3 separate regions of the Homo sapiens genome follow, and regions 1 and 3 are each linked to region 2. Evidence: fine-mapped expression QTL. A gene starts in region 2. Each other region holds a variant in brackets. All regions are shown on one strand. Distances are between the middles of the regions.

Evidence for each region. PIP is the estimated chance that this variant, and not a neighbour inherited with it, causes the effect. A credible set is the group of variants that fine-mapping cannot tell apart.
Region 1: its variant is the best candidate, but not a certain one, in a credible set for the expression of TCF7L1 in left ventricle (GTEx, PIP 0.50).
Region 3: its variant is the best candidate, but not a certain one, in a credible set for the expression of TCF7L1 in tibial artery (GTEx, PIP 0.68).

What each region holds. Positions count from the first base shown.
Region 1 is chr2:85,173,997-85,182,173 of GRCh38, reverse strand. The region is part of intron 3 of TCF7L1 (transcription factor 7 like 1); the gene reads right to left. Among named protein-coding and RNA genes, the nearest start is that of TCF7L1-IT1, 8.3 kb to the left of the region's middle. RefSeq lists an enhancer at 1-536 and a silencer at 645-782. The variant T/C (reference allele first, on the strand shown) is at 4,265.
Region 2 is chr2:85,128,299-85,136,475 of GRCh38, reverse strand. It overlaps TCF7L1 (transcription factor 7 like 1), which reads right to left and starts at 3,084. Exons shown (of 12, transcript NM_031283.3): 1 at 2,543-3,084; 2 at 2,397-2,460; 3 at 2,026-2,153. The coding sequence starts at 2,791. RefSeq lists enhancers at 751-1,324, 1,325-1,899, 2,475-3,049 and a silencer at 3,415-3,484.
Region 3 is chr2:85,267,750-85,275,926 of GRCh38, reverse strand. All of the region lies in intron 3 of TCF7L1 (transcription factor 7 like 1), which reads right to left. Among named protein-coding and RNA genes, the nearest start is that of TGOLN2, 56 kb to the left of the region's middle. The variant T/C (reference allele first, on the strand shown) is at 4,267.

The DNA of each region.
Region 1 (8,177 bases), 46 kb before region 2:
CAAGCTCAGTTTTGAGGGCCTCGTCTCTCCCTGCCATCTTTGCTTTTCCTCTCCAACCGAAATCCCACTTAATTCCTTCAGGCGCCCCGTCCATCCTGCCTCCTCCCCATGTCCACCAGCTGCTCCCTTTTCCCCTGTCCTTTGGCAGGATCTGAGACTCCCAGTGTGGCCTTAGACACCACAGGGCCCGCCCCATAAGGTTTCAGTTTTACGCAAAGTTCTGCGTCTCCCTCCCTATTGAAACATGGATCCTGTGGCAGGGGCTGCATTCAGCATGCCTTGTACCTGCCCCTGGCCTTGGCACTGAACACAAGACACTTGTTAAACTGACACCCACTCGATGCTTGCTTAATGGTCAATGAGTGAGGTGCCTCAAAGAGGGGCAACACCAGACGAGCGCCCTGGGAACCCTCCCTGAGGATACTACACAGGTGCAAAGGAACCAATGGTCTCAGATTTAAGATGCAGACACACGGACCAGTCACCTTAGCTGGGGCAGTTTGGCCCCAGACCTTCTCCTCCAAGCAGAATTCCTCTCCCTCTCCTCCAGCCAGCCTTTTGCTCCCCTGGGATCATTCAACTACAAAAAGGAATGCTTCCCCTGGGCTCTGGGAGCTGCCTGGGGTTCCCTGTGTGTGCTGAACCCTCTCCCTCTCTCCTGGCCACCACACAGTCACACACATAGTTCTTTTTTTCCTCCGGGCTACTTGCTTCCTTTTGCTGCTGCCCCCAGCAGGCGGGCCCATGCCCAGCAGGGAGGCACACCCGTACCTCTGGGAGCCTCCTATATGTCCTTCTACCCTCCAAAGCAGGGCCTTTCCCAGGGGCTGTTTTGAAGGCTGTAGTTTACTAACTTACACCTAGCTTTTGGCTATATGCCAAGTTAGACAAGGAATACATTCCCTCTGTGCTACCTGCCCCTCACATGCACACGCTGGCTACTCTCATTGGGCAGGTCCATCTATTTACCACTTCTTCCAGCCCTCTCTCAGGTGCTCCCTGCTCTCCGCACCTCTTTCTCTTATAACTCTCCTCCCTAATCCCCCAAAAAGAAGCCCCAACTCAGGAGGGGTCACAGGGCAGCTGGCCTCTTAGGTCTACGAAACCTGAACCCACCAGCCTCCCCCTTTTCTCCTTCCTTCAGGAACTGCAGAGGAGAAACAGTTGACTGCTCCAGTCAGCAGAGCCACTCTGGATGCCAGGGGAAGGCCACCGTCTGTTAGGGGCCCTTAGGAAGGCTGGGGCTAGGAATCATGTGCTTCAGACCTGCCAGGGAGGAAGCGGTCTAGCTACTTGCTATTTGCTGGCTGTGAGATGCTCGGCACATCATGCAACCTCCCAGCACCTCAGCTTCCTTACCTATAAATGGGACTAGTGACAGGTCCTAACCTATGTGTTGGGGCTGCTACAGATGACACGAGTGAATAAATACAGATACTTGGAACGGGCTCCTGGTGCACAGGAAACACTCCAGGGTCAGCTGTAACTCTTATCGTGGTTGTTATTTCCTCAATCCTCACTTTAGGAAGTCACTAGCCTCTGAAGAACGTGAAAGGCAAGGAGCAGAGACCATCATGAGCCAGGTGGTGTGGAAGATTCCACTGAGGTCTGTAATGTGGATAACTGAGAAGATTCACCAGGATGGGAACCACAAGAAATCTGTGTGGGGTTGGAAGGCACATTTGAGGGGTATGATAATGTGCGGGGTGTAGCCGTCATGAGGCTGCGATGGCTGAGGGTCAGGCAGGTAGACACACCCTCCAGGTAGCTGGGCTCACACACTGTTCAACAAAAAGAGCACTTTGGGGCACCGTAGCTCACATCTGTAATCCCAACATTATGGGAGGCCAAGGCGGGACAATCACTTGAGGCCAGGAGCTCAAGACCAGCCTGGGTAACATACAACATAGCAAGACCCTGTCTCTACCAAAAAAAAAAACAAAAACAAAAACAAAAAAAAAAACCACTTTGCAGATCAGAAGTTTAGAAACTCAATACTAGATTCTCAGCCTCACATCTCCCTCCCCATCTCTCAAAGGAGATCTTCTCGGCCCTCTCCCCAGCCAGTGCCCCCTGCCCCTTTCTCCAACAGTCCTTGCAGCTGTTCCCAGGACCCGGCTAAGCCACGTCCTGGGCAGTGACACCCTACACAGGAGGGCAAGACACCCCCTATGTGTGAAGCCATTAACAATTATTAAAATTTAACCCAAGAGATCTTCTACAGCTACAGAAAGGCACCCAGAGAAAAGTGTTCAAAGAACAGAGCTTTAAGTCTTTTTTTTTCATTCAGCAACTAACAATAGTGATGACTCAAGAGAAAGGATATATTTCTTTCTTTCAAAAAATGGTAAGAAATCTTTTTTATGCACTTGCCGTGGAAAATGCTTAGCTCATCAAATTCCTTGTGCTAAAAGGAGCTAAACCAACACCACAGCAGGGCCCTCCCCGTACCAGCCCACTCAGCCCTGTTCTAATCCTAATCCCTGCATAGCAGCAGGTAACGGAGGGTTTCAGTCTGAGGGGTGAAAGGTGTGAGCAGAGCAAGGGAGGGGGCAGCTCAGCTCCAGGACTTAGCCAGAGCCCCTTGACTGAAACTCTCTTTTTGATGGCTCTCTACCACATGTAGTGGATTATGTTAGGTTTTGGAGGGGGAAGATGAGAACAAAGGCCCAAGTCTGAGAGATGACCTAGTATAGAGGTTCTCAGAGTCCCATCTGGGACCAGCAGCATCTGCATCACCTGAGAACTTAGAAATACAAATTCTCAGGGCCCCACCCCAGAATCCCCGAATCAAACACTCTGGGAATGGAGCTCAGCTTGTGTGTTAACAGGCTCTCCAGGAGATCCGGATGCATTTGAGAACTATTCCTCCAGGACTCAGGTTGTGTTTCATTCCAAGGGAAACAAGAAACTGTTCTGTGCCTGGCTAATAGGAAACAAACCACAGGTGGTCCCAATTTCATTCCCTAGGTCGTATCATTTTGAACTCAGGGTGAGTGGCTCTATTGATTTTAACATGGCAATAAAGGCAATTAGTCTCTTTTTGCTGTTTAGGAGCAAAAGACAACAACGCCTGCAGAAGCCAGTGGCCCTGGAGGGAAAGCAGCTCAGAGGTGGAGAGAAGCACCAGCTCTGTCTTCCAGGAGCCCTCCCTTATCAGCCCCAGGCTCTGACGGGTGGGTAGTTACTTTCTCTCCTCTCAGGTTAACCAGCCCCTTTCTTCCATCCATCCTCTTGACTGTCTCCCTAAACTCCACTTCCCTTTGAAACAGGCTGTAGGCAGGAGATCCAATCACAGTGGGGTTGGCTGAGGCTCCAAAGTGACCCCCACCTTGAGACACCTAAGACAAGAGTGTCTAAAATCACAGCCCTGCCGCCTGTCTTGTCTCTGTGGTTCTCAAAGCTCAGACAGGATGGGTGGCAACCATGGCTGAGCCAGGGCTTCAGTGAGGCTGCACCAACTTCAGATTCTAGGCCGTAGAAAGGTCAATTAACACTGGCAGGCCTCAATTTCCCTGTCTATAAAATGGACAAATAACCATCTAGTAAGTGCTCATTAAATATCAGCATTTCTGGCCTGAAGAGAGAGCCCTCTGAGTGGGAGCGTGAAAGGGCCTAGATGCCAGGATTCCAGCCCCGCTGCCTTCCACACAGCTGTCCCCTTCCCACCCCTGCCACCCTGCTCCTTCTCCAGCTCCTTCTGGAGACTTGGGTGCACAGGAGGAGTTCAGTAAATAGTGTGAATTAAGGGGAGATAGATGGAAGGAAAGAGACACATGAACCATGTATGACTCAGGCAAAGACTGAATTGATCTGTGTTGGTATTTGAGGGGGAAGGAAATGGCTAAACAAAACAAACTGTGTTTACCACCATGAAAGGAAGCCCAAACAGTAACCAGCTAATGGCAGGTGAAAACACAGGAAATTCTGAAAAGTGTGTAAGAAAGGCACTGTGTTTTTTTCTTCTAAATAATTCAAATGGTTCAAAAGCTTACTCCTTTCCCCTCTAAAGAGCTCACTGTCCATGGAGACGTCTCTGGGAGCGTAGTGTAGCCCTACCTCATACCATTTTTTTCCTCACCTGGCAAGGTCCCTGCTTTTTCTCAGGGCTCGGGGGCCCTGCTCCTGTCTTCACTGATCTGCTTGCTCTCTGTCAGTATCACTGGTTAACAAATGACTCTATATCCGTTCCACAGAATGGTGTGCAGCCATCCCAATGCTTACTGCAGCTACATGATATCTGTGTTCTGTCGTCTTCATCTTA[T/C]AATGCCTAGAACTTTGAGGGAAATCATTATATAATGAAATGAAGAAACCACCAAAAACTGTGTACCTATGCTTTGATTTTAACTATATAAAATATGAATTCATCAGAATAAAGACAAAGATAAGACTCAAATGAAAACAGTTTGTTAGGTGGTAGGATTATAATCGTCTTTTCCCTTTTTTCATTTTTTTATTTTTATTTTTTAGAGACAGGGTCTTGCTCTGTTGCCCAGGCTGGAGTGCAGTGGCGCAATCATGGCTCACTGCAGCCTCAAACTCCTGGGCTCAAGCAATCCTACTGCCTCGGACTCCCGAGTAGCTGGGACTACAGGCATGCGCCACCACACCTGGCTAGTTTTTTATTATTTTGTAGAGATGGGGTCTTGTTTTCTTGCCCAGGCCACTTTCAAATGCCTGGGCTCAAGTGATCCTTCTTCCTCGACCTCCCAAAGTGCTGGGAATACAGGCATGAGCCACCACTCCAGGTCTCTCTTTTATATAGTGTGGTGGATGTTGACTTTATACTTAAAATTTTTTTAAAACATATGGCAAATATTATAAGGTGTTTGTGCCCCACACCCCTGCCACCAAATTCCTGTGTTGAAATCCAATCCCCAATGTGATGGTATTTGGAGGTGGGGCCTTTGGGTGGTAATTAGGTCATGAGGGTGGAGCCCTGATGAATGGGATTAGTGCCCTTATAAGAAGAGGCCAGAGAGCTGGCTTGTTCTCTTTCCACTGTATGAGGAATGCAAGAAGTCAGCAGTCTGCAACTTGGAAGAGGGTCCTCACCAAAACCCGACAGTGCCACCACCCTGATCTCACCCTCTATCCTCCCAAACTATGAGAATAAATGTCTGCAGTTTATAGTCCACTCACCCTCTGGCACTTTGTGGTTGGATTTTTTTTTTTTTTTTTTTTTTTGAGACAGAGTCTCGCTCTGTCACCCAGGCTGGAGTGCAGTGGTGCGATCTCGGCTCACTGAAACCTCCACCTCCTGGGTTTAAGCGATTCTCCTGCCTCAGCCTCCTGAGTAGCTTGGATTACAGGTGCCTGCCACCACACCAGGCTAATTTTTGTATTTTTAGTAGAGACAAGGTTTCACCATGTTGGCCAGGCTGGTCCTGAACTCCTGACTTCAACTGATCCACCTGCTTCAGCCTCCTGAAGTCCTGGGATTACAGGCGTGAACCACTGTGCCTGGCCAGCACTTTGTTATAGCAGCCAGAACGGACTAAGATGTCAGGCTTCCAAAATCTACTGATTTTCCCATGGAATATACAATTTTCAGAAAAGCATTATTTTTCTAGGATAATGAAGGATGAGGGGTCATAGCCCATGTGAGAACTACTTACCTGGAGACACCAAAGCCTTTGGAGCCAGGGACATGAAAGAGGATGCGAACTTGCCATGGGGACTCCAGACAGTGGAATGGAGGAGAAAACAACAGCTAAATATAAGGGAGAAATTCCCTACGAGTGGAGCTGTCTAATAACAGAATTGCCAAGGTCCAGTCTCCTGACCATGAAGATGTATGGGAAGAGGGTATTAAATAATCATCTACCTGCAGACACTGGGGAGCTCAGGTGCTTCCAGATCTCATTTCATACCACAACAGGCTGCAGTGTAAACATATGGTCAGTCAGCGGAGGACTGAAGCCTCAAACTCAGATGTCCCAGGGCCTGGACTGCTGCTGCACGAGAGCTACACCAGAGCTTCCAAACGGTGCTTCTTTGCATGCCCAGGGTTGGCTGCCTCCAGCCTGTTGGCTCACCCCAGTATGCCCTACAAATATCATCAGTTTCCACCCTTGCCATGAGACAGAAAGGTGGGGAGTACCTCTTATCACAGCAAAGAGGAGGAGATGGCTTCCTACAAAAGCTAGTAAATATTTCATCAGAAGGAAGTCTGTCTTCACAGGAATTGTCCCAGCTAGACTTCCAATCCCTAACCCTGATTTTAAGAGATCCACCTGATAAATGCGTCTTCAGGAACAACAGCCAAAAACAAAGACTGACCTAAACGTGGCTGGTGACAGCGAGAAAGGGAGGAGAGCCATGAACCGCAGAGGGCCAGCATTGAGAGAGTCCAAAGTATTGGTCACGCTTCCATATCCTGGCTCATGTTACAGCCAACTTTTGTTTACCAGGCCTACAGTCCCTCTTCCTGTCATTCCCAGCTTCCTATTTTAATGTTCTTTTTTTCTCTGTTCACTACTATTTAGGCAGACAATGAATACAGATAACAGCGACAGTGAAAAAATTCAACTGAGTTATCTGCTACTGGGGATTACCTGATCCATCGGGAAATCACAAGTTGACAAGAGGACAAAGAACAGGGTGTACCTCATTGTTGTCGATTTGCTTATCTCAAGTTGCACCCACCCCCCATCCTGGCTACCCATGCTCAAGCCTATGACCAGGAGGGAGGGGAAGCACTTGCCCCCGTGGCTCCCCACTGCATGGACGTTATCAGGGGTCTTGCTGGATGGTGGCCAGGCACCTGTTACTATCCTGTGGAATTTACACAGCTAGGCATGGTCAGAAAGGAAATCCATGGTTCAAATTTTTATCAAAATTCGGGTAATTTTTCAGCTAGCTCAGCCAACCATATGCTTTCAGGAAATAACAATTGTGGGGGCAGGGGGTGGTAAAGCAGGCTTCAAACTGATTTAAACCTGATCCCCTGTCCAAAGAGCATTGTACAACTGAGCAGGTGTCTCCATTCACACTTCCACCCTCTCCAGTTACATGGCAAAGGGCTCACAACTCCCAGACACTCAGCCAGCCAGCATTCACAGAGAGCCCACTGTGAGCTGCGCCGGGCGGGCCAGGGACAAGGATGTCACATGGCGCTGCCTGTGCCATGTTACAGTGAGGGTTTGGTTGAGGCCATAAGGCAAATCAACGATATCAAAGACACAAAACCACACACATAAACAAAAAACCACACACTTAAACATAGTAACACTTTGAGACGGTCATGTCCAAAAAGGCCTGAGGAGCTGGTCTAATATGAGGTCCGGAGGAAGAAAGGTAGGGTCGGGCAGGGACCTGCAGTGACCCAAGGATGTAGGAGCAGAGGCTGGATGCCCCAGCAGGGCCCAAGTGTGAGAAAGCTGGAGGCCCTGGGCATAGACTGCGAAGAAACCAGTTGGGCAGGAGTGAAAACTGAAGAGAAATGATGGTTGTCAGGCGGAGTCAGGGGGATGCTATCCCATGAGGAGGCTCTCAGGTGCTAGGCTAGTGAGTTCAGACTTGACTCACCAGTCAAAACACAGGAACACTGACCATCTTACACACTGCACACCAGCACAGAACAGCCACAGAAATGGGGGAAGGCCCATTTTTGGAGTTGACAGTGACCAGTTAAATGAGATGCATGTACCATTGCTGAGCCTCATACCCACCTGCCAGGTGGGCAACATCACCTCTTTTTTGGAAGCGAGGAAACCCCATTAGCCTTGAGCCTTGCATCACATTTCCAAATGACTCAGTGGTAGCCATGAAGTAGAACGAACCCAAATGATGAATGGATATACAAAATGTAGTATATCCATATAATGCAGTACAGTATTTGGCAACAAAAACGGAGGAAGTGCTGATACACACCATGACACAGAGGAACCTTGAAAACACCAGGCTAAGTGAAAGACACCAATCACAAAGACCACACACTGTACGATTCCCTTTATATGACAGGTCCAGAACATAGAAAAAGAAGGCCGGTGGCTGCCAAAGGTTGGGGGAGAGGAGAACAAAGTGACTGCTAATGCAGTGATGAAAATATTCTAAATTTAGATAGTGGTGATGGTTGCACAATCCTGTGAATATATTGAAAACTGCTGAATTGTACCCTTTATAAGAATGAATTCTGGCCGGGCGCGGTGGCTCACGCATGTAATCCCAGCACT
Region 2 (8,177 bases):
GAAAGGTTGGCTGCCTCAAGGAGGGGCTCCAAAATCCCACACGGGCCTGGATTTAGTAATCAGGAATCTCCAGGATCAGCAAGAATCAGCCTTTGGAAGTTCTTAGGCGAAAGAACACATAATGTGATAGAAGGAAGGAAGGAGGGGACACTAACAAAAATCTGTCTCACTTGGACTGTCAGAGAGAGCAGACAGCAGAGCCTGGATGAATCAAAATGCCCTAAAGAGAAATGGGTGCATGGAGAAATAGCCTTGAGGGAGCCATAGTCATATTTGATGGTGAAATAGTCATTTCTGGTGACTTTAACTGCATCAGGACTTGGCTGAGGGCTGATGCACAGATGCTAGTGCCTCCCAGACCCCTCTCTCTAGATATCCTAATAGTAAATGGAAACCTGAGACTTTAGCGGCATTAACTCTCCCCCATACGCAAAGTTACACGAATCCCAACAAAACTTGCAGAACTAAGCTACATGTGTGGGCACTGGTGGGAATCACTGAAAACCTAAATAAGACCGCAGCAGCTCGTTGATCCCCCCCCCCCTTTGATTGGCACGCACCTCTTTTCTTTTAATGAGAAAAAGCAACAGCCATAGACCCACATCCAGTTTTCACTGCAAAACTGACACTTACATTCAGGACTTCCTGGGGTGCTCCAGGCCAGCAGGGCCAAAGCTGCAAGACCTCCCTCCCTCTCGGGGCAAAACTGTGAGGTCTGTGTAGTCCCACTCCCCATTCCCCTCTCTCTCAGTCAGAGTCTCTTCCACCGCCCCCCGTCAATCCCCCTCCAACCCATCTGGTGATGGTAGCGCCCCCGCTGAACCAAATGTGGAGGACTTGGCTCTCCACCGACCGCTGTACAATGACAGCAGGAATGGCCATTCAGCACCTAGCCTTTCTCTAGCACCCTTTAATTATCGTCGTTATTTTAGGGCAGTCTTAGCATAAAGTGTGTTGCTGGGACCCTGCTCCTAAGAGGCTAACACTCCCTGCCCCCTTACCCACCGTCGACAGCGAAGTGGCAGGCAATGGGAATCTGGGCGGGAAGCAAAGAACTACTACGATTCACATCGCGCCCAAGCAGCAGCACGCGGGAACCTGGCACACAGTAGGTAGGCGTTCACCCAACATCTGTCATCGGACCCAGCACCTGGGCAGGGAGCCTAGGGGTGGAGTGGCGGCTTGGGGGACACAAAGGCCTCGCCAGCCCCCAGCTGCGCCCCTCGCAACGCGGGGGGCGGGAGTTTAGAGCCAGAGAGAGGGGGCGAAGGAATCCGCCCTCATTTGCACGTCGTCTGGGGCCCGGTCAATTTGCTTAATCACCGCTCTAAATGCCAGCGGGCAGCACACAATACGCGCCCATTAACAGGTTTAAAGTGTCGCAGCGCTCGCTTTAAATGAGAAAAGCAGGCGACAAAAGGGGGAAAAAGCCAAGTTCCTCAACTTGAAGAATGCCTTGGGTCGCCTCGAAATCATCTACGCGAGTTTAAAATTCGGAGCTAGCTCCGCAGAAAAGCTGAGGCCCCGGTGCGAGGGCTGGGGGTGGGAACGGGGGCTGTGAATAACCCGCCACGAAAACTGGGTTTCTTAGGAACCAGCCTGCAGCCGCCCAGTGAACCCGGAGTCGGAGGACAACGTCGCCAACCCAGCTCCCTAGGCCCCTTGCCCCACTGCCAGAGAAAGCTGACCGATTTCCAAGAAGGAAAGCGAGACCCCCCCAAAGCGGGCACAAATCCAAGTTTCCTTCGGTGCAGGCGAAGAATTCTGGAGGCCAAGGAAGATCCCAGAGGTGGACTCCAAAACCTCAACCCGCAAGAGGGGAAAAGTTAAAGTAACTTTACTTTCATCCAGGCACTGGCCAGCGCAGCCTCGCGCTCGGCCGCCAGAGAGTAGTTCAACTCCGCAAACAAGTTCTGCTTGGGATCGGCGCAGAAGGCCCCATCCCCCACTCCATGGCCAAGCCCGGGGGCGCATCCTGCGGGCCGCGGCCTCCCACCCTCCCCGGCGCGCCCGACGGGCACTCACGGTGCGCGCTCCTCCGGGAGACAGGGGTCCGTTGGAGAGGTACGGGCTGCTCAGGTCCGGGATCATCAGGAAGGGGTACCCAGGGTACGGGGGTCCTTTAAAGAACGCGCTGTCCTGAGGCCTTCTCACTGCGAACAAGACCAAGGCGAGGTGAGGCCCAGGCCCCCGGGACTGACAGCGCCGCGGCAGGGGGCTCGAGGCGGGAGCTGGGGACCCCAGCGCCCCCCACGCGCGCCCCACGGGGGCTGCCGCCAATAAAGGCGGAGGGCAAGGGTGCGTCCACCCAAGCAAGGGGGACGGTGGGCCGCCCGGGCTGAGCAGCGGAGCGCAGCGGGAATCGAGAGTGGGGGGCTGTCCCAGCGGGCACATACCTTCGGCGAAATAGTCCCGCGGCTTCTGGAAAGTGTCCCGGACGGGCTGCGGGCGCCTCTCCGCCTGCGGAGGAGACACAAAGGCAAGAGCGGGTGAGCGGACGCAGGGCCGGGATCCCCCGGGGGTGGCCGCGGTGCTTCCTTACCTCCGAGTCCGAGCTGCTGCTCTGGTTCTCCGACTCGTTGACCAGGGACGACTTGACCTCGTCTAGGTCCCGCTGCGCCGAGGCGCTATCGCTGCTCGGCTCCTGCTCCTCGCCCCCCTCGTCCTGGAAGGGGATCAGCTCGTCGTTCGCCCCGAGGTCGTCCCCTCCGCCGGCCGCCCCGGCGCTGGAGCCGCCGCCTCCCCCGCTGCCGCCGCCGCCGCCGCCGCCCCCGCCGCCGAGCTGGGGCATGGTGGGGCCGCGGGCCGGGGCCGCCGCTCTCGGAGCCCCTAGCCGCCCGCGCCCTGCCCGGCCCGGCCCGGCGCCCCTCCCGCCCGCTTGCGGGCCCGCTGCGCTAGCCGCCGCAACAAAGTTTGACAGGGCGTGGCCCCGCGGGAAGCGGGCCCGGCGCTGCCCGGCCGGGGCGCAGGCGGCTCGGCTCGGGCCCCTCCGGCAGCGCCGAGCCTAGGGCTCCCCAACTCGCCACCGCCGCCGCCTGCTCCGCCGGGGCGTCCCAGCCCCTGGCCCGCCGGGGAGGGGCGAGCGGGGAGGGAGGGAGGAGGGACCGCCGGGCTGGGCAGGGGGGCCGGAGGGAGGAGCCCCGGCTGCAAGCTGACACCCGCGCGCCTCGCGGAACCCGGAGAGCTGCGGTGCGCGCGCACACACACACATACACACGCACTCACACTCACACGTTCACACTCGCATCTTCCAGGGGCTGCGTCTCCCTGCAACGTGCACCGCCCCCAACCCCCTCCTGCGCCTCACACTGCACCCTCGGCGGCCCTCCCCACGGCCTCCCTGGAGTCCTGGAAGTCTTGCGCCCACCCCTCCGCATCCCCTAACTTTCTCCCAAAGAACCTCCAGAACTCCGCGCAGGTTCCCACCCCCTCCCACCGTATCGGCGCGCGGGCGGGCGGCACTGCCCCCTGCGGGAAAGCCTCGGACGCACATACTGGCCGCGGGGCCCTCCCCCTGCCTAGAGTCCCTCCGAGTGCGCGAGCTGATGCACGGACTAGGACACTGGGGACATCTATGGAACCCCGGAAAATGCCCGGCGGCTTTCCGCGCCTTTTTCCTGTGGGGTTCCAACGCGACCCCCGGCCCAGGTTTTCAACCTTGTACAGATATACAGATTTCCCTGCTGAAATCTTGAAGATCACCTTTTCTTCATTGTTTGGGACTAGGTCCTAAATCGAAAAATCGCGGTCTTGGGTTCCAAAAGAATTTGGATTTGGTTCATTGAGAGGGAAAATTGCCTGTCCAGTGATCTCCGAAGCCATTCACAAAGCTGCGTGAGTAGCCAGTGAACACGAGAAAAATGCTCAACCAGCCTCATACCTAAGTAATGCCTGTGGTGCGAGCGCCACGGCCCGCGCCTGGAGTTCCATCTACTCCCGAGGCCTAGGCAGGAGGATCGCTGGAGCCCAGGAGTTTGAGACCAGCCTGGGCAACATAGCAAGACCTTGTCTCCAAAAAAAAAATTTTTTTAATAAAGAAATGCCTGTTACAATGACATTAAGATGTCGTTTCTCTCCAACCTGTGCGGGAAAGTTTGAGGAAAATGAATATCTTGTGTTATCCTCCGTGGGGAACTATTAGAGCATAAACTTTGAAAACAGCTTGGAAGGCAGTATGGAACTATGTAAAACTATTTTCAGCCCAACTGGCAGAAGAGTTTCTACAGAGGTGCCCGCACATATGGGCAAAGCCACATATGCTAGGTTCAAAGCATCAGAGAGCTTGGTGACATGCATTCTTCATCTTTCTTTACAGTGACAGTCCATGCAGCTGGCCAGTTCTATGCAGTGTCCCCGCCCCTCCCCCCACCCATACACACACACACACACACACACACACACACACACACACACACACACACAGGCACATGGACCAAGATTGATTTTGGAGGAACATCTTTAAATGAAACACTATATATGACACTCACTATTTTATTTTTGTTTTTAAAAAAATTATACACATTTATTTCTGCGTAGAAAAAAATCTGAGAAGATGCAAATTATTATCAATGACTATTTCTGGGAAAGGATAAGTGAAAGGAGATAGTTTTCTGGTTTCTATGAACTTTATAACAAGCAGATATGCCTTTTCTAATTTTTTACACAATACATGAGTACAGTCTCATAAAGCGTTTTCAAATAACAGATGTATCTTGAGCAGTATCGAGTAACAAGTAAAAGTTCCTCTTTCCCCCTCAGGACACAGGACCCTTCTAATTAACCACTTTCAGTTAACTGCCTCTGGTTAACCACTGTCACTAGTTTGGTATATATCCTTCCAGACACTTTCCTAGGCAGTTATGAACATATGTAAACGTATTTACAGATATTCTGATGTACATACATAGAATCATACTCTTTGTATTATTGTGTGTTATTTTATTTTTATAAGATTTAAAAGTCAGACGATTTTTCATGTTTATGGTCCATAAATATATGAAAAACCTATTGTACTAGTTTTCTGCTGCTACTGTCACAAATCACGAAAACTTGGTGGCTTAAAACAACAGAAGTTTATCCTCTCATAGTTGTGGAAGACAGAAGTCCACTGTCAGTTTCACTGAGTAGAAATGGAGGTGTTGACGGGGCCATGCTCCCTCTGGAGGCTCCGAAAAGAATCTACCCTTGTCTCTTGCAGCTTCTGGGGGCTTGTGACCACATCACTCCCACCCTTGCGTCTGTAATCACATTGCCTTCTCCTTTTTTTGTCTGTGACAAATTTTCCTCTGCCCCCTTCTTGTAAGAAACCATACTTGTGGCCGGGCACAGTGGCTCACGCCTGTAATCCCAGCTCTTTGGGAAACCAAGGCAGGTGGATCACGAGGTCAGGAGTTCCAGACCAGCCTGGCCAACATGGTGAAACCCTGTCTCTACCAAAAATACAAAAAATTGGCCAGGTGTGGTGGCAGGCGCCTGTAATCCCCGCTACTTGGGAGGCTGAGGCAGGAGAATCGCTTGAATTTGGAGGGAGGAGGTTGCAGTGAGCTGAGATGGCACCACTGCACTCCGGCCTTGGCGACAGAGTGAGACTCTGTCTCAAAAAAAAAAAAAAAAAAAAAAAAGTGATACTTGTGATAGCATTTAAGGACCACCTGGATAACCTGTCCATGTCAAAATCCTTAACTTCATATCTGCAAAGACCTCTTTTCCTTAAACATTCACAGTTTCCAGGGATTAGGTCATAGATGCAGCTTTGGGAGTAAGCCATTATCAGCCTGCCACACCTATAAACCAGAAATGCAAACGGAAACAGCATTGAGATAACCAGTTTTCATCTGTCAGATTGGCAAAGGAAGAAAAGAATGGTAACACCCAGCATTGGCCCCTATACTAAGAAGCACATAGATGCTGGGCCATTGTGTAACAGTTCTAAAGAGAAGTTTGGTAATACCTGTGAAATACCTTTAAAAGTGTGAACCCTTTGACTTATCCACGTACTTCTAGGATTTTATCTGAAGGAAACAACTAGGTACAAAAATAAACCTGTAGAAGTGTGTTCATCACAGTGAAAAAATCTAGAAACAATTTCAATGTCCCCTATAGGGAATTATTAAGTTAAATCATGGTGCATTCATCTAATGGAATGTTATGACATTGTGGAGATATATTTGTCAATATAGAAGGAGGCTCATAATGGTAAGCAAAAGTAGCAAATTAAAATTAACATGTAGACTTCCACTTCCCATTCTAATGGGGTATTGATGTCAGATTGACTCCTTCATCAAGAACAACTAACTATAAACTGGATAAAATACCAAAATAAAACAACAAAACCCAGCTGAGTTGAAGGCATCACTGTCAACCAAGTCAGCCAGGACGTGAGGAGTCAAAATACCAGAAGGGAAATTCATTCAAGCGAGTTTGTATTCACTGCTGTTTCATCCCCTCAGAGAATTTGGTGATTTGTAGCACCAGGCATAGAGGCCAAACCAAAAACAACCATCTAGAGCAGCATACTACAGCTTGCTGCCTGTTTTTGAATGGTCTCAGCTAAGACTTTTTTTTTTTACTTTTTTTTTTTTTTTTTTGAGACGGAGTTTCACTCTTGTTGCCCAGACTGGAGTGCAATGGTGCCATCTCGGCTCACTGCAACCTCCACCTCCCGAGTTCAAGCAATTTTCCTGCTTCAGCCTCCTGAGTAGCTGGGAATGTAGGCATGCACCACCACGCCCGGCTAATTTTGTATTTTTAGTAGAGACGGGGTTTCTCCATGTTGACCAGGCTGGTCTCGAATTCCTGACCTCAGGTGATCCGCCCAAGTGCTGGTTTTACAGGTGTGAGCCACGTCGCCCGGCCGCTTTTTTTACATTTTTAAGTGGTTGAAAAAGATCATAAGGGCCAGGCGCAGTGGCTCACGGCTGTAATCCCAGCACTTTGGGAGGCCGAGGCGGGTGGATCACCTGAGGTCAGAAATTCAAGACCATCCTGGTCAACACGGTGAAACCCCGTCTCTACTAAAAATACAAAAAATTAGCCGGTCGTGGTGGCGGGCGCCTGTAATCCCAGCTACTCAGGAGGCTGAGGCAGGAGAATGGCGTGAACCCGGGAGACGGAGCTTGCAGTGAGCCGAGATCGTGCCACTGCACTCCAGCCTGGGCGACAGAGCGAGACTCCGTTTCAAAAAAAAAAAAAAAAAAAAAATTAGCCAGGCGTGGTAGCAGATGCCTGTAACCCGGGAGGCGGAGGTTGCAGTGAGCCGAGATCGCGCCGTTGCGCTCCAGCCTGGGCAACAAGAGCGAAATTTTGTCCCAAAAAATAAAAATAAAAATAAGGATAATATTTATGACACATGAAAATTATATGAAATTCAAATATCAGTGTTGATAAAGTTTTATTGGAACATAGCCATACTCCTTAGCCTATACATTGCCAATGGCTGCTTTCACAAAACAATGATGGAGTTTAGGACATGTATTGCTTAATGATAGGGATACATTCTGAGAAATAGGCAATTTCATTGCTCTGTGAACATATGGAGTATACACAAACCTAGGTGGTATAGCCTACTACACACCTAGAGTATATGGTATAGCCTGTTTCTCCTAGGTTACAAACCTGTTCACCATGTTACTGTACTGAATACTGCAGGTAACTGTAATACATTGGTACGTGTGTATCCAAACATATGTAAAGATAGAAAAGGCACAGTAAAAATATAGTATTACAATTTTATGGGACCCTATCATGTATGTGATCCCTCATTGACCAAAACTTTGTTATATGGTGCCTGACTGTAGTTGCAACAGGGACAGTATATGCTCTTATCACTTCATACTGCTGCTCAGTACACCACAAATCACGGTGATACAGTGTTTTCAGTGCCATGCATATCTCTGTACTGCGACATTTATTTTAAATTTTTATTACCAGGGCATATCCATTATGTCAAAACAAGAAAAGAAAAGTAGATGTATTCATCCGTTGCCACACTACTATAAAGAAGTACCTGAGACTGGGTAATTTATGAAGAAAAGAGGTTTAATTGACTCACAGTTCCACAGGCTTAACAGGAAGCATGACTGGAAAGCCTCAGGAAACTTACAGTCATGGCAGAAGGTGAAGGGGAAGCAAGCGACTTCTTCACATGGTGGCAGGAGAGAGAGACAGAGAGGAAGCGC
Region 3 (8,177 bases), 140 kb before region 2:
TTTTTTTGAGATGGAGTCTCACTCTGTCGTCCAGGCTGGAGTGCAGTGGCGCAATCATAGATCACTGCAACCTCCACCTCCTGGGCTCAGGCAATCCTCCCATCTCAGCCTCTCAAGTAGCTGGGACCACAGGCATGTGCCACCATGCCTGGCTAATTTATTGTAGTTTTGGTAGAGACAGGATTTCACCATGTTGCCCTGGCTGGTCTCGAACTCCTGAGCTCAAGTGATCTGCCCGCCTTCACCTCCCAATTCTGCTGGCATTACAGGGGTGAGCCACCGCACCTGGCCTACACTGGTCTTAAACCAATGAAGTGACTTTGCTCTCTCTAGCACCTGTCACAGCATTTAGTCAACAAATGGCTTTAAAGCCCATGCACTGGTAGCAGAGGGGCTCCAAAAGCATTTCATAACTGAATAGTAAACTCAAAAGTAAGAGTGTGTCAATTAGGTGTCAGTTTCACCATAAACACCTCTTTCCTCTGCTTTCCCCAAATGATTCTTTCTTTTGTGGATGATCTCAAAACTATTCTCTTCCCCTCGCATTCCAAAGAACCTGGCAATTTTGCCTCCTAGATTTGACCTAAGGTTTGTTTTTAAAAACTGGCTCCCCCGCAGAAGCCAAGCTTTCGTTTTAGAGCACAGGAGGCAAGAGATCAGGGTTCCAGGCTCTTTCTAACCTTTCTGGACTCCATCGTCTCATCTTTAAAATGGGAATATTTTACTTCATCAGCCTGAAGCAGGGGCCTGGACTAGATGGTCTCCTTTGGAAGGAAAAATCAAATTCAGCTGTTTGTCTAAACACAGAGGGCACTGGGAGTGCCGACCGTGTTGAGGTGTTCAACAAATACGGAATCAGGGGTCCTAGCTGAACCCCACTTACAAGCTGTGTGCCTGTGTACATCACCTTTCAGAACCTCTGGTTTCCACATGTAAAATAGGAATAAGAACACCTACTGCCTGGCAGAGTGATTATCTCACGTGTGGCTGTCACACTCAAGTGTGAGTGTCCTCTCACACTGGAGAGGACCAGGCAGAGTGTGGGGCATGCGGGGAGCTTGTAAGAAATCTGTGTTCAGTCACTAAATGTGTAAGTTATTGGTATTCTAGGAGCCTGTGACCTGCGCTTTACCTGGGGAGACAGGTCTGGTTCGGTGGTGTGTTGGTAAATGCCTAACAACTGGCTCTCTAAGCAAAAAACAAAGTGAAAAACCAAAGCATTTGCTGGTATTCATGGTGTAAACACTCCCGCTGATTTCAAGGTACCACGATGAGTCACTGAAGGCTCAGCGCGGAAGAGATGCTACCAATTGGCTGGGTGCCAGCTGGCTCAGGCACACCAATGACCGTGGGCAAGAGCTGGGTTGGAGGGGTGGTCTCAGATGTGTCCTGACTTGCTGGGATGGCTGGAAAGCTGAGACACACATGGTTCTCAGCTGACGTGGGCCTGCTTGAGGTCTTGATGGAGAGCCGGACACTTGGCTAGGTATGTCCCCCGACAGCTGCATGCTCTGGAGGAGGGAAAACTCTGCTCCCAGAGCACTAGGCACAGCCATTCTGTGGTGGCCCTGACCAGGGGGACCCCGGGACAGAGCCCTAGGCTTTCAAACAATGTCAAAGTTCAACTTGCTTTCGAGTCCGCATTTCTGCAGCCTGGAGCGCTGGGCCTGCTGAGTCGCAAGCTGCCTCTCCCATCGGCTGTGACCTTGGGTTTGCTGGGCCTGGGCAGTGTCTGTGCAGTGTCTATGCTCACTGCCCAGCCACCAATGTGCTGCAGGAAGTGTCTTCGTGGAAACTGGCTTTGGAGGCCCAGTCCTCCTTTCCCTGAGGTGAACCCTGCTGGGCCCCTCCCTCTGTCTCTCCCCTGTCGCTGTGTGCCTGGGAATCTACTGACACGCTTCCCTCCCCTCAGGCCCTCAGGTGAGAACATCTGCCCTGGCCCCCACAGGATGCAGAGTCCACCTGCTGGCCTCTGACCAGGAGCTCAGACTGGGCTGAAAGAGCAAATGCCTTTCTCCTTCACAGCCTGCAGCCTGTTCTCTGGCCTGCCCATACCCACCCACGCCACTCTGCCCCCACTCCATTCGCCGGCATAGTAGGGCTGGTCCCATAGCCATCCCCACAGAGCTGCCTCCTCCTGGGTTACAGGAGGTGCCATAACCGACTCAAGGGGCCCATGCTCACAGACATGGAGGTGTTTCCCAGGCTTCTGCTGCAGTGAACACCCTTGAACACTCACCGTGTCGCCCATGTATGTCTATAGTGGGAGGACACATTTCCAGCTGTGAGGGGAATCACTAGGTCAAAGATATGCACACTTAAGTTCTGAGGAGTGTTATTAAATTTCTCCCAGTTGACACTGCTAACAGCAACCTGGGAGAGGGCTTATTTCCCCACACCCTTGCCCATACAAGGTTATCAAACTGTTTAAACTTTGCCAAACTGACAGGTAAAAAAGTCCCTCACTGGAGTTTCCATTACTCTTATAATGAGTGAGGCTGCGAATTGTCCTCTGTATGGGTGATGATTTGAAGGAGGGAAAAAAGATGTGTGTGGCACAGAGGAAGTGGGGCACATAATCTGCTGGATGGCGGGGATGGGGGAGGACGAATATGGAGTCACTGCAGGTGAAACACAGGAGGGGTCTGTGGGTTCCTTGCAGCTGGCACAGCCTGTGCAACCTCTCCTGCACTTGATCTTCACTCAGGTGGAAGAGGCCAGAGAGAAGGAGCTGAGGCTGAGTCTGTGCGCTGTTGTGAGTGAGGAGGAGGTGGGAGGAGAGCCCAGGAAGCTGCTGGTGGGCAGCTGCCCCTTCTGGTTCTCCCCCTTTCCCTTCCCCGCATGTACACAGGCTGCTTACATGCCCTCCCCGCCTCCCAGGTACTTCTCAGCCCCCAGAAGGCTGGCTTCTGTTCCACTCCCTCCACTGTCTCTGTAGACACTCTCCTGTCTTTGCAAGGCCATGGATGACTTTAGGAAGAAAATAAAGGCAACTGGCTTTTGAACTGCCACATGACATGGGCAGCTCTGGGGAAGCCTCTCCCCGCTCCTGCCCTGTGGCTGCAGGTTCTGCATGCCTTTTGGGTGATTTTTTTATTGATTGATTGATTGATATACTGGTTAATGGATTGATTGATAGGGTCTTGCCCTGTCAGCCAGGCTGGAGTGCAGTGGCACGACTGTAGCTCACTGCAGCCTTGACTTCATGGAATCAAGCAATCCTCCCACATCAGCCTCCTGCATAGCTGGGACTACAGGCAAGCACCACACCACCCGGCTAATTTTTTTTTTTTTTGGTAGAGACAGGGTCTCACTATGTTGCCCAGGCTGGTCTGAAACTCTTGGCCTTAAGTGATCCTTTCGCCTTAGCCTCCCAAAGTGCTTGGGATTATAGCTTTGAGCTACCACGCCCGGTCATCCACATTTATTGACCTGAATAAAGTGTGCTGGACAAACTGTTCAGTGAGAAAAGCCAATTAAATAATCTGGAAGCATAGTCACCCAAATGTTATCGCTGGATTTTTAACATTTCAGGCAATTTTATTAGTTCCTTTTTCATATTTTTCTTCTTCACTTGAAATTTTTACAATCAGTATGTCTTATATCATAGCAACAGTAAGCAAAGCTATTAAAAGTAACCCCAGATGAATTATTTTCAATCCTGTGCCTTCAGTGTACCTAACCAGAAACCTCAAAATCCACTTTAATGACTTTAGTTACCTCCCTAACCTGCTCTGGGCCACCCAATTATATGGCTTCTGGACATTTTTTGAACCCTATTCCGAGGAGGAGCCCCTGCAGCAGCCTTCTGGGTTTGCTTGAGCTCCTGCAGGTTCTCACCCAGGAGGAAGGCAGCGGGGGTGGGGGGCAACCCGGTTTGAAAGGGGTGGTAGTGGGCTGCAAACCACATCGGCAGGTTGCTTTGCCTCACATTGACAAAATGTCTGTTGTCCAAGAATAGGGTAGTTGACAGAAATGAAGGGATCCCAAATCCTCTCTCCATTGAGTCATCAGTGCTCCTGTTCTCAGTTCATCTCTTCCAGTCTACCCTTCACTTACCTCTAGAAATATCTTTCTAAAACATAAAACTGTGCTGTTTAAAGCTAGCAGGAGGCTACTCATTCTTACAGGACTGCCTACCAGATGATCAAGATGCAGTGACAGCTCTGTACAGAGCCCTCCATCAAAGTTTAGTGAGTATCTCATATAAAAGGTGGCTGTTTATATGCATGATATACCACAGGAGAGATTTTTAAAGTACATAAA[T/C]AACTAGACTATAAGCCTATAAATGACAGGTTCAGATAAGACAGGGATGGCAATGGGCAAGAATTATCGTGTTACAACTGAAAACTTCATAGAGGAGGTGGCATCTGTGCTGGGTCCTGCAGGCAGGATATACTTCTACAGTTGTTTTACTTTTTAAAGCATTCCATATGAATTATCTGATTTGATATTACTGACTCCTGGATATAGGTAAAGCAGATATTATTATGTTCATTTAAAAAATGGGAAACTGGGCCGGGCGCGGTAGCTTATGCCTGTAATCCCAGCACTTTCGGAGGCCGAGGCAGGAGGATCACGAGGTCAGGAGCTCAAGACCAGCATGGCCAATATGGCAAAACCACGTCTCTACTAAAAACACAAAAATTAGCCGGGTGTGGTGGCGGGTGCCTGTAATCCTAGCTACTTGGGAGGCTGAGGCAGGAGAACTGCTTGAATCTGGGAGGCAGAAGTTGCAGTGAGCTGAGATCGCACCATTGAACTCCAGCCTGGGTGACAGAGGGAGACTCTGAATCAAAAAAACAAAGGAAATTGAGCCTGCTGGAGGCTGTTGGATTTCCTCGACACTGGCACTAGAATATAGGACTTTGGGCGTTTATGTTGTAACTCTAAGGGTACAAGGACATGATTTCTGCCTTCTAGAAACTTGTGGTTGGGAATGGGACTCACACTTGTAATCGCAGCATTTTGGGAGGCTGAGGCAGGTGGATCACTTGAGCCCAGGAGTTCAAGACCAGCCTGGGAAACAAAGTTAGATGAGACCCCGTCTCTACAAAAATACAAAAAAAATTAGCCAGGTGTGGTGGCGCACGCTTGTAGTCCCAGCTACCCGAGAGGCTGAGCTGGGAGGATCGACTCAGCCCTCGAGCTCGAGGCTGCAGTGAGCTGTGATTGCGCCACTGCACTCCAGCCTGGGTGACAGAGTGAGACTCTGTCTCTAAATAAAAAATAAAGAAACTTCCAACTGATCTCGGAATCTTGGGATAGCAAATATGGGGCACAGGAGCAGTCCCATCCCTCCGTGCTTGTGGCAGACACTGCTAGTAGACCATGGCACTCTTTCTTGCTAAAGGTGGGTAAGACCTCAGAATCCTCAACACTGAGGCAGCTACTAACAGTTGATTAAAACTGACCTGTAAGGTGCAATCTATTTATTCTCTCTGATTTACGCCAGGAGGTAGATACAGATGTTCTGTCTGGTGAGAAGGAGGGGCAGAAACCAGGTCATAGAAGCATCTCTCCTGGCTGGCACAAAGCGGAACTCAGCTCCTAGACAGAGGTGAAGGCTTCACCAAGAATGTGACTAGATGGCAAAAACAGTCATAATTTGCAGAAAGTCCATTGACCAAAAGCAGGCCTGAGAATTCTAAAGTTTACGGACTTTCCCCTATGGGAGGAGAAGCTGGAAAGCATCCCAGGTATTGAGGAGAAAGGAAGCAGGATCTGTGTATAATCAGTGAGGAACAGGAAGCGCTTATCTGGGGCCAGTGAAATACTCAACACAAAAGAACAGCCAGGCAGCCTGGAGCTGCCTTCCAGCCACAGAGCTTCAAGGGTCTCTTAGAACCCTTCCCCGCGGCTCCTGCAGGCCCAGCAGCTGGCCAAAGTCAACAACTCCTGGGCACCGGGAGATGGGAAATGTCTGAGGAGGCCTCTCCATAGACGGGCAGTTCCAGGAGAGCTCTCCGACCCCACAGGTGAACAAGAACACAGGAGAATAAGGGTCACACCAGCCACCTCTATACAGGGCCATTGCTCCTGATAAAGGAGCCTGAAGAAGGGGTCCTGCACCCTACACTAGTGTGTATGCAAATGTGGGTGCACATGTGGCTTACATATCTCAGGGAACAACACGATTTTATGTCCATATTGAAGGGAGGGTGCAGGAAGTTATGACGGACAGTGGAAGGGCTGAGAAGTTCCCATCTCAATACTATTAAACAACACCTCCTATTTTTTAGTACCTAAAATATTTACATTAATCGGCCTTAAAATATTTAAGTATTTAAAATATTTAAGTATTTAAGCCAGTATTTTTGGCTGGGTGTGGTGGCTCACGCCTGTAAGCCCAGCACTTTGGGAGGCTCACCTGAGCCCAGGAGTTCAACAGTAGCCTGGGCAACATGGTGAAACCCTGTCTCTACAAAACACAACAAAACAAAAATGTATATATAGCCAAACAAACAAAATTATAAATACATATGTATGTGTATTTTTTATGTATGTGTATACACATGTATATACGTATACACAATTACACATGCATGTTACAGGCAAAGTTTGATATCTTGGATACTGTTGCTTACAGTGAAGCTCCATTTTTAAAAAGTGGAAAAAAGTGAATCAATTCAAAGAAAAATAATTATGTAAATAGTATAGGTGGTATGTGGCAAAGATTATGTGAGGAAGTGACATCCAGGGAATATGGTTGTAGGACTGCATGTTTGTGGCCATCCAGGGGCTACTGCCAGTTGTGGATGAGGGCACCCCTAGGAATTGGAGAAAGAGGTTCTGCACACAGACTCAAAGGTCAGAGCATCCCAGGACACACCACTATTGTCTTCCCAAATTGCTTCTCACCGAGATCTACCATCTCTCTCTTCTCATGTACCTGCAGGGTCAAAACCTCAGACATCTTTTCCTCCACCTTCTTCCTCACTTTGTCATCTAGCCCATCAAGTCCTGTGTTTTTTCAATCTCAACTACCACTGTCTTGCAATGGCTCCCTAACATTCACCTTGCCCCACACTCGTTCCTCCAGGTCGGTCACACACCCTGCTGCCCGCTGACTTTCCAGCTCACAGCCAGGCTCATTTCCTCGCTTAGCTTCCCCTAAGCTCTTTGGGGATAGGCATCCAATCTTTTTTTTTTTTTTTTTAACCTGCCGCTTCAGAAAGGCATCCAGGCTGGGCACGGTGGCTGACGCCTGTAATCCCAGCACTTTGGGAAACCGAGGAGGGTGGGTCACCTGAGGTCAGGAGTTCGACACCAGCCTGGCCAACATGGTGAAACCCCGTCTCTATGAAAAGTACAAAAACTAGCCGGGCATGGTGGCGGGCGCCTGTAATCCCAGCTACTCACGAGGCAGAGGTTGCAGTGAACCGAAATCGTGCCACTGCACTCCAGCCTGGGTGACGTGAGCGAGACTCCGTCTCAAAAAAAAAAAAAAAAAAAGGCATCCAATCTTATTCGCCCTTTGGGTCCCCACGGCCTTAAGCACAGCATATCATTTGTGAGAGGTGCTTGATGACTATTGCAGGGTGTTCTAGGATTAACCAAATTAGAGGTGCAAGTCCTTCTCTCTGGAGGTGCTGCCTCCCAGGCAGCTCTAGTGGAAATGTTGTCTGCAAAGGCAATTAGCGGTCACACTCCTGGGGTTGTTGCCACAGACCCTAATTTAGCTGACCTAGGGTGAGAACAGAGAAACCATCACCTTTTGGGAGAATGATGGATAGAGGGAATGGGAAAGTCCGCTGCCACTGGGGACCCTATCAGGTGAGTAAGACTCCATTTACCTAAAGTGATCAAATAAAAAACATTTACCAATATCATATCTGCTTCTATTTTTATATTTTCCCCTACAGTTAATACATTATTAAAAAACAAACAAAAACATTCTAATCTTTTGTAGCTGGGGGCCTTGATGCTGGGATTCTTCTGTTCAGCCCCACTGTGGAATACAGCACTTCTGAAATTCATACTCTGTTTGATATTAATATCATTTCAGATAAGCAAATAAGTATGTGCCAAAGCCAGGGACAGGAAACTGTCTGCATAAATCTTGGATAAACAGATTTCTTTAAAGAAAACATTTAGTGATGCGTTACCTTGTGCCAGATACTCCATGTGTTATTTCGTTTAACCCCCACAGCCTTATAAGTTGATGCTATTATTAT